Homo sapiens: one gene and its partner. The protein of the gene in region 2 purifies or fractionates together with the protein of the main gene of each other region. This does not show direct contact. Each region holds a gene or a part of one and is shown on either strand. Other genes may lie near its edges.

The links. The genes of interacting proteins can lie anywhere in the genome.
Region 1: the proteins of PRPSAP1 (region 2) and ANKRD44 purify together in Homo sapiens (affinity purification with mass spectrometry; one large-scale study listed by BioGRID and IntAct). This does not show direct contact.

Annotation. Positions count from the first base shown.
Region 1 is NC_000002.12:197,010,281-197,013,780, reverse strand, and holds part of ANKRD44 (serine/threonine-protein phosphatase 6 regulatory ankyrin repeat subunit B), read left to right. Parts: intron 1-68; coding exon 69-270; intron 271-3,500. UniProt on the Homo sapiens protein: Putative regulatory subunit of protein phosphatase 6 (PP6) that may be involved in the recognition of phosphoprotein substrates.
Region 2 is NC_000017.11:76,312,448-76,315,916, reverse strand, and holds part of PRPSAP1 (phosphoribosyl pyrophosphate synthase-associated protein 1), read left to right. Parts: intron 1-2,025; coding exon 2,026-2,096; intron 2,097-2,900; coding exon 2,901-3,047; intron 3,048-3,469. UniProt on the Homo sapiens protein: Seems to play a negative regulatory role in 5-phosphoribose 1-diphosphate synthesis.

The DNA.
Region 1 (3,500 bases), on a different chromosome or scaffold from region 2:
TCCTGTGGACTGTGGCGGGATTTGAGGTGAGCGAGCAAGCATGGGAGCCATTGGTTTCTTCTTTGCAGGCCTACAATGGGCACCATCAAGCCTTGGAAGTCCTTCTGCAGTCGTTGGTGGACCTGGACATCAGGGATGAGAAAGGCCGCACTGCTCTGGATCTGGCTGCCTTTAAAGGACACACAGAATGTGTGGAAGCGCTTATCAATCAGGGCGCATCCATCTTTGTGAAAGACAATGTAACCAAAAGAACCCCACTTCATGCCTCAGGTAGGTCTTGTCAAGGGCCTGATTACCCTAGTTTTGTGGCTTGTTCGTAAGTTTTAATAGAAGGAAAGCAGCATCTTCTTTCATCCCAGTTTTTTAAATATCAATTTTCTTTCCACATCAGATGCACTTCCACACTTCCAAAATGCTTTTGGCCTGCTATCCTCTTGGAGGTGATTGGTGTTCTCTGGCCAGGTGCTCTGGCCTTGTTAACTCAAAAGAGAGTTCAGAACTTTTGGCTAAAAGCTACCACAAAACATTCTGAACAAAGGGCAAGGTGTAATGCAATCTTCAGAACAAGTTACATAGAACAAAATACATCAAAATCAAACAGTATTTGAAAGCATAAAACCAATAGCAGGTTTTATGGCTATTTCATATTCATATTAATGTATTCAGGGCTATTTCGCATAAGGAATCATAAGGCAGCAATCAGTACATCATTCTGCCAGCCTAAATGATGTTTCTTAGCTTTTTTACACATCGATGTAAAAATCAAGACGCTTTAAAAGTACATGTATATATCAAAAAGAAAGTCATTTGCCTTTTCTGGGATTTTTCTTCCATGCCCATGAAAACCTGTGTCAAGACACTTCTAGATATATACACAGACATAAGGGTAATATGGAAGAGTCTCTAGCTCAGCTAAGGCATAGATATCTTTGGCTCAGGAAATCCAGTGATATCAGCCTTTGATTAGGGTAGTAGATAACATTTTGTAACGATAAATAACTGTCTTACTTGGTGAAATGGGTGTATTGAGGAAGCAAATAAGTGAAGATACTTTTTCAAAAGACTTTATGATTCTTGTTACTTGGGAAAATTTTCCCAGAATGATAGACCTTGTAAAAAACTATTTCCATCTATGTCCCTGAATTTCCAAGCCACTGAAGAAAAACAATACAGAGGTTGAAAAAACCTAATTGTTGCCTACTTACTTGGAAATGATTGTTGCTGGAAAAAAAAAAAACGTTAGCCATAAGGTTAGTAATAGTTGGTGTGGTTGAATTATAAATTCTCATTTCTCATCACATTTAGTCTTTTTTCTCCCCAGCCATTCTTGTTATTATTATAAAATTCAAATTTTGTCCTCCTTTTTAAAAGATTAGTTGCTATTTTTAAGAGAAGCATCCTATTTTTGTTATTATATAATTCCTGACAATTACAAAGGGCCTACTTTGATTGTGGAAAATCGCCCTTATAAACAGGTAAACAATGAAGAACAATCATTTTCACTCATTTGCCAGTGTGATATGGGTTGTGGTCCAGTGAAGCCCCCTAGTGGTCAAGAAGACTCAGTCAGCTTGGATTTTCCTCCTGTCATTCACTAAAAAGACACTGTCACTGGACTGTTCACAAAATGTCTACTGTGCAGAAGCTTTAGCGTGTGCTTTGAGGATCTGCTTACCCAAAATCTTTTTCAACTTTTTTGAGAGGCCAATATTTTGAGTTTCAAATCCTCAGAGCACTATGAGGAGCAAGAGCCAGGACGAGTATGAGAGGTTTTGGCACAGATAGTTGGAGTGACAGTTTGTAGTCTTTGAGTCGTGTGAAAAATGGTTGTCACTCATAGGAAGAGGCTGAGCTGGTCTGAGACAAAGCTGAACTTGGCAGCAGAGCTAAAGATGTTAGCATCTTTTTGCTAGAAGGCAATTTGGGGAAAAAGAAATGTAGTGTGTAGGAAGCCAAAGAGAATTTAAGTTTGGCTACCAACTTCAGGGGAACTTAGATTTACCTGAGGGGCTGGGCGCAGTGGTTCATGCCTGTAATCCCAGCACTTTGGAAGGCCGAGGAGGGCAGATCACCTGAGGTCAGGAGTTCGAGACCAGCCTGGCCAACAAGGTGAAACCCCATCTCTTCTAAAAATACAAAACTTAGCTGGGCATGGTAGTGTGCATCTGTAGTCCCAGCTACTCGGGAGGCTGAAGCAGGAGAATCGCTTGAACCCAGGAGGCAGAGGTTGCAGTGAGCCGAGTTCACGCCACTGCACTCCAGCCTGGGCAACAGAGCTAGACTCTACCTCAAAAAAAAAAAAAAATACCTGAGGGCTATTAGCTAAGTTCAAAAAGCTACTGTACCAAAAAACAAAACAAAACAAAACAAAAGCACAACTGTAGAAACTGTTTTGCTATCTAACACATTGGGTGAGTTATATGAAGTTAGATAATTTTTTTCTTCTTATGTTTAGCCAAATATCAAATGTCACTTGAACTATTATGATTATGACTATTTAGAGTATTAAGTTGCTACAGAAAGAGGAACCAGTCAAAATATGCTGTTTTTCCATGTTCATGAACCTGCCATCTGCAGTATTCAGCTGTCAGTCCTTTGCCAGTCATTTCCTTTTAGCCATACATTAAACTTCTTGCCTACTTCACCAATGGTAGCAGATTTAGTGTAATTGTAAGAACAAAAAACATAACAGCAGCAGCAACGACATATTACCTGTACTCCAATCCACAGAATTTCCTCCCGAGATACATAAATGGAATGTTGCTGAGAATTAGCTGAATGCAATGGTCTACAAAATGTGCACATTATTCCTGTAGTTCATTTGAGTGCTGTTGATGAATGCAAGCTAATTCCAGTATGTATGTATTGTCCCTGAAAAAATGTGTCATTGTTAAATTAGCATTCTCTCGTGGCTGGCAAGCAAATAAAAGGTCTGTAAAATGCAGCTCTTAGGAGAGCCTTTATCAACCTCACATAGCGGCGTCTATTCCCTTCTCTCTCCACATCCATAATGTGGCAAATACAATGTACTTTGTGGCCTTCTCATTGTTAGAGAGGAGAGAAGGTCACATTTGGAATTTTAACCACGGTTGCTCTCATCTTACTCCCTGAGTGGGAAGTCATGCCTATCATAAGGCTTTGGTTTGCGTTCAATAGCCTGGCAGAAAGCAGCTTACCCTGAGGTTATCATCACAGGTTTGCTTCCCAGCCCCTGTGGGACCACTACAGCCTTCTAAAGCTGCCTGGAATTGGTGTGCACAGGAGTGCATCCAGTGCTCCCGCCCCAGCCGGTCCAGGCCTGCCCCGCATGGGGGCCGCATTTCCTGCCCACATTGGCCCCCACTCGGTCCGCTGGGCGAGGAGGGGCAGGGGGAGGCCCAGTCTGGCCTAGGAAAGGGCTCCCAGGGAGCCCAGTCACACCTCGGCCAGGCACGAGGATGCCTGGGAAGTCAGAGAAAGCGCCGCCTGTGGCTCGGTGACCGTGGGGCTGAGGGACCGTC
Region 2 (3,469 bases):
TGGTGAAACCCCACCTCTGCTAAAAATACAAAAAATTAGCCAGATGTGGTGGCACGTGCCTGTAATCCCAGCTACTTAGGAGGCTGAAGCAGGAGAATCGCTTGAGCCCAGGAGGCAGAGGTTGCAGTGAGCCGAGATCGTGCCACTGCACTCCAGCCTGGGAGACAGAGTGAGACTCTGTCTCAAGAAAAAAAAAAAAAAAAAAAAAAAAAAAAAGCGGATAGGTCAACATAACTGCGTGTTTACATGGTTTAATTTAAAAACAGAATCTCAGGAAGCTGCTCCTAATGTTGGTGGTTTGAAACCCCCCTCCCCCCATTTTAAGTGATTTTATATGCAAAGCCTTCTTGTCTTGCCCAAATTCAAGAAGTTGTCTTTGTTTCTAGGATGTGAAATCAGGAAATATATGTTTGTTGAAATGTATAAAGTAGTGGTGAATTTCAGCTCAACTGATTTGCCAGTATACAGAGAAAAACACCTGTTCTTTGAGATACACAGTGCCTGTTGGGAATCTGCAAAAATTGTTTGTTGGTAGTCACTAAACTCTTGTTACCCTGAATTTTATTCTCTTTCGCTTCCCCCACTACTAGCCTAATAAATATTTCAGAATAATAACAAAGTTTAAAGAAAGAATACTTAGCCTGTTCTTCTGAAGTAGTCTTTGTTTTTCTTCTCTGTTTACTAACCTCCTTTTGAGGATAAAATCTTATTTCCTTTCTTTATCCTGTAGTTTCCTTTGTACACTCATAGCCTTTCTTCAGATGCAGATTTTGCAGTCAGATAAAAGTCTCTACTTTAAGCACCAATTAAATCAGGAAAAGATGATGGGCCTGGAGTTATTGTCTTCAAGTTCCTGATTTTGAGGAAACTCTGATTATGTCAGTAGTGCAGTTATCTGATAGTAAGGTTACACTGTCCAAATAAGGTGACTTTGGAAGAAAATAACATAAAGCCATCTCATGATCTGGCAGCCTTTCGCTGTTTCGCTTTCTGCAGAGCGGCATTCCTTCTGCATGTCTCTGTCAGTCTCTGTGAGAGTGGGGTTTCTATCCACACAGCACTGCGGTGCAGCTTCTCCGTGTTGGCAGAATCTTCCATGCTCTGCTGGTTCGTTGTCTTTCCAGCTGTGCTGTGCAGTGCAATGTGCTGGCTGCTGAGCTCATGAGACACGGCCCGTCTCAACTGAGAAGTGCTGTGCGTATAAAACACACACCAAGTAGAGAAGACTTGATAGGAAAAAAGTGTAAGGCTGGGTGCGGTGGCTCATGCCTATAATCCTAGCACTTTGGGAGGCTGAGGTAGGAGGATTGTTTGCTTCCAGTTTGAAATGAGCCGGGGCAACATAGCAAGATCCCCTCTGAGAAAAAAAAGTGTAAAACATCTCATTAATTTTTATATCAGGTTGGGCGTGGTGGCTCAAGCTTGTAATCCCAGCACTTTGGGAGGCTGAGGCGGGTGGATCACCTGAGGTCAGGAGTTCGAGACCAGCCTGACCAACGTGGAGAAACCCCATCTCTACTAAAAATACAAAACTCAGCTGGGTGTGGTGGCGCATGCCTATAATCCCAGCTACTCGGGAGGCTGAGGCAGAATTGCTTGAACCTGGGAGGCGGAGGTTGCAGTGAGCCAAGATCGCGTCATTGCACTCCAGCCTGGGCAACAAGAGCAAAACTCCGTCTCAAAAAATACATACATACATACATACATACATACATTTTTATATCAGTTACATGTTGAAATTATAATATTTTGGGAATTGCATAAAATAAAATGTATTAATTTCATCTGTTTTTAATGTGGCTACTAGAAAATTCAAAGTAACATGTATGGCATGCCTTCTATTTCTTTTGGCCAATGCTGCTGTTTCTGAGAGATTGCAGGTTCATTGAGGGGGAATTTGCATGGTTTGTTTGTTTTTTGTCTGTATAGTGGTTTTGCCACCATTTCCAGGGAATTAGGTTGTGATTACATTTCTCTAGTGATACATGAATGACTGAGATCTTGTAATTTGTTTTGTTTTGCTAGTGATGATGGCCAAAGAGAAGCCACCGATAACTGTAGTTGGAGATGTTGGAGGCCGCATCGCAATCATCGTGGTATGGTTATATGTCATCCATGTGCAGAGGTGGCACTCCTGGCTCTTGGTCAGTAGGTTGTCCACTCTGGGACTGTATTTCTAGGAACGATGATCCGAATGGATCCATGTATCCTTTCTCACCCAAACTCCCTTGTGCCAAGTGGCAGAAACCTGTATCCAGGTGAACATACATTAAAGTATAACCTACAGATAGGAAATGAGCACAGTACTCCCGTGAGAAAATTCAGCACCTTCACCTTCATCATGTGGATTCTAGGTTCTTTAAACCAGCTCACCTAATCATGCTTGAGCGTTAGGGCCGAAAGATGAACTGAAGATGAGCTGTTCCGTTTTCACAAGTAAGAATGGGTGTCCCCGTGCAGACTCGTTCTGCATGTTGACATACTTTTTTTCCCAGCTCTAAATATCTGCTGGCTAGTGGGTCATGAGTCCTTTGCAGTAGCACACTTTATTTCAGTTTTCTTCTCATGTCACAGTCTATTTGAAAAAAAAATAAATGGAACGCTGGCTATGTGGGATTCACCAGAAACGTGAGACAGGAAAATGAGTGTTGGCAATCCTCAGCTCCAGCCGTAATGTCACAGGTGCTTGACTGCGCCCGCCTCTGACAGACACACAAGGTACTGTCAGGTGCTTCTGTTGCCATTTCTGGATGCTCGTTCTTTGACCCAGGCACACAGCTCTGATTTTCCATCAGAAATCCTCTGAAACTGAGTGCAGAAGAGAGTAGAGTGGTGTGTGCATTGACAGTATGGGCTAGAGGGTGTTTCTTTCCTACCAACTCACTCTGTTCTCCTCCCAGGATGACATTATTGACGATGTGGAGAGTTTTGTTGCTGCCGCGGAGATCCTGAAAGAGAGAGGCGCCTATAAGATCTATGTTATGGCCACCCACGGCATCCTGTCTGCAGAGGCCCCTCGCCTGATTGAGGAGTCCTCCGTAGACGAGGTCAGGCTGCTTCTAAATCTTGAGCCAAGATTTACTGCTGTGTTTTCTGGGAATAATAAAATGATTCAGTCAATACTAAATTGCTTAATCTGTCTATAGCTTTTCTAGCTTTTGCTGGCTAGCAGTTCGTTGGGACAGATACATGTTTAGGAATACAGATAGTCCACGACTTACCATGGTTCAACTTAGAAGTTTTTGACTTTATGATGATGCAAAACCATTGCAATTACGATGTAATGTATAGTATTCGATAAATTACTTGAGACACTTTATTTTAAAATAATCGCTTTTATTATAAAATGAAAGCCTTTGCCCTAGATGATTTTGCCACCTGCAGTCTAATGTAACTGTTCTGGGCATGTTTAAGGTAGGGCTAGGCCAAGTTAATGATGTTTAGTAGGTTAGGCGTATTAAATGCTTTT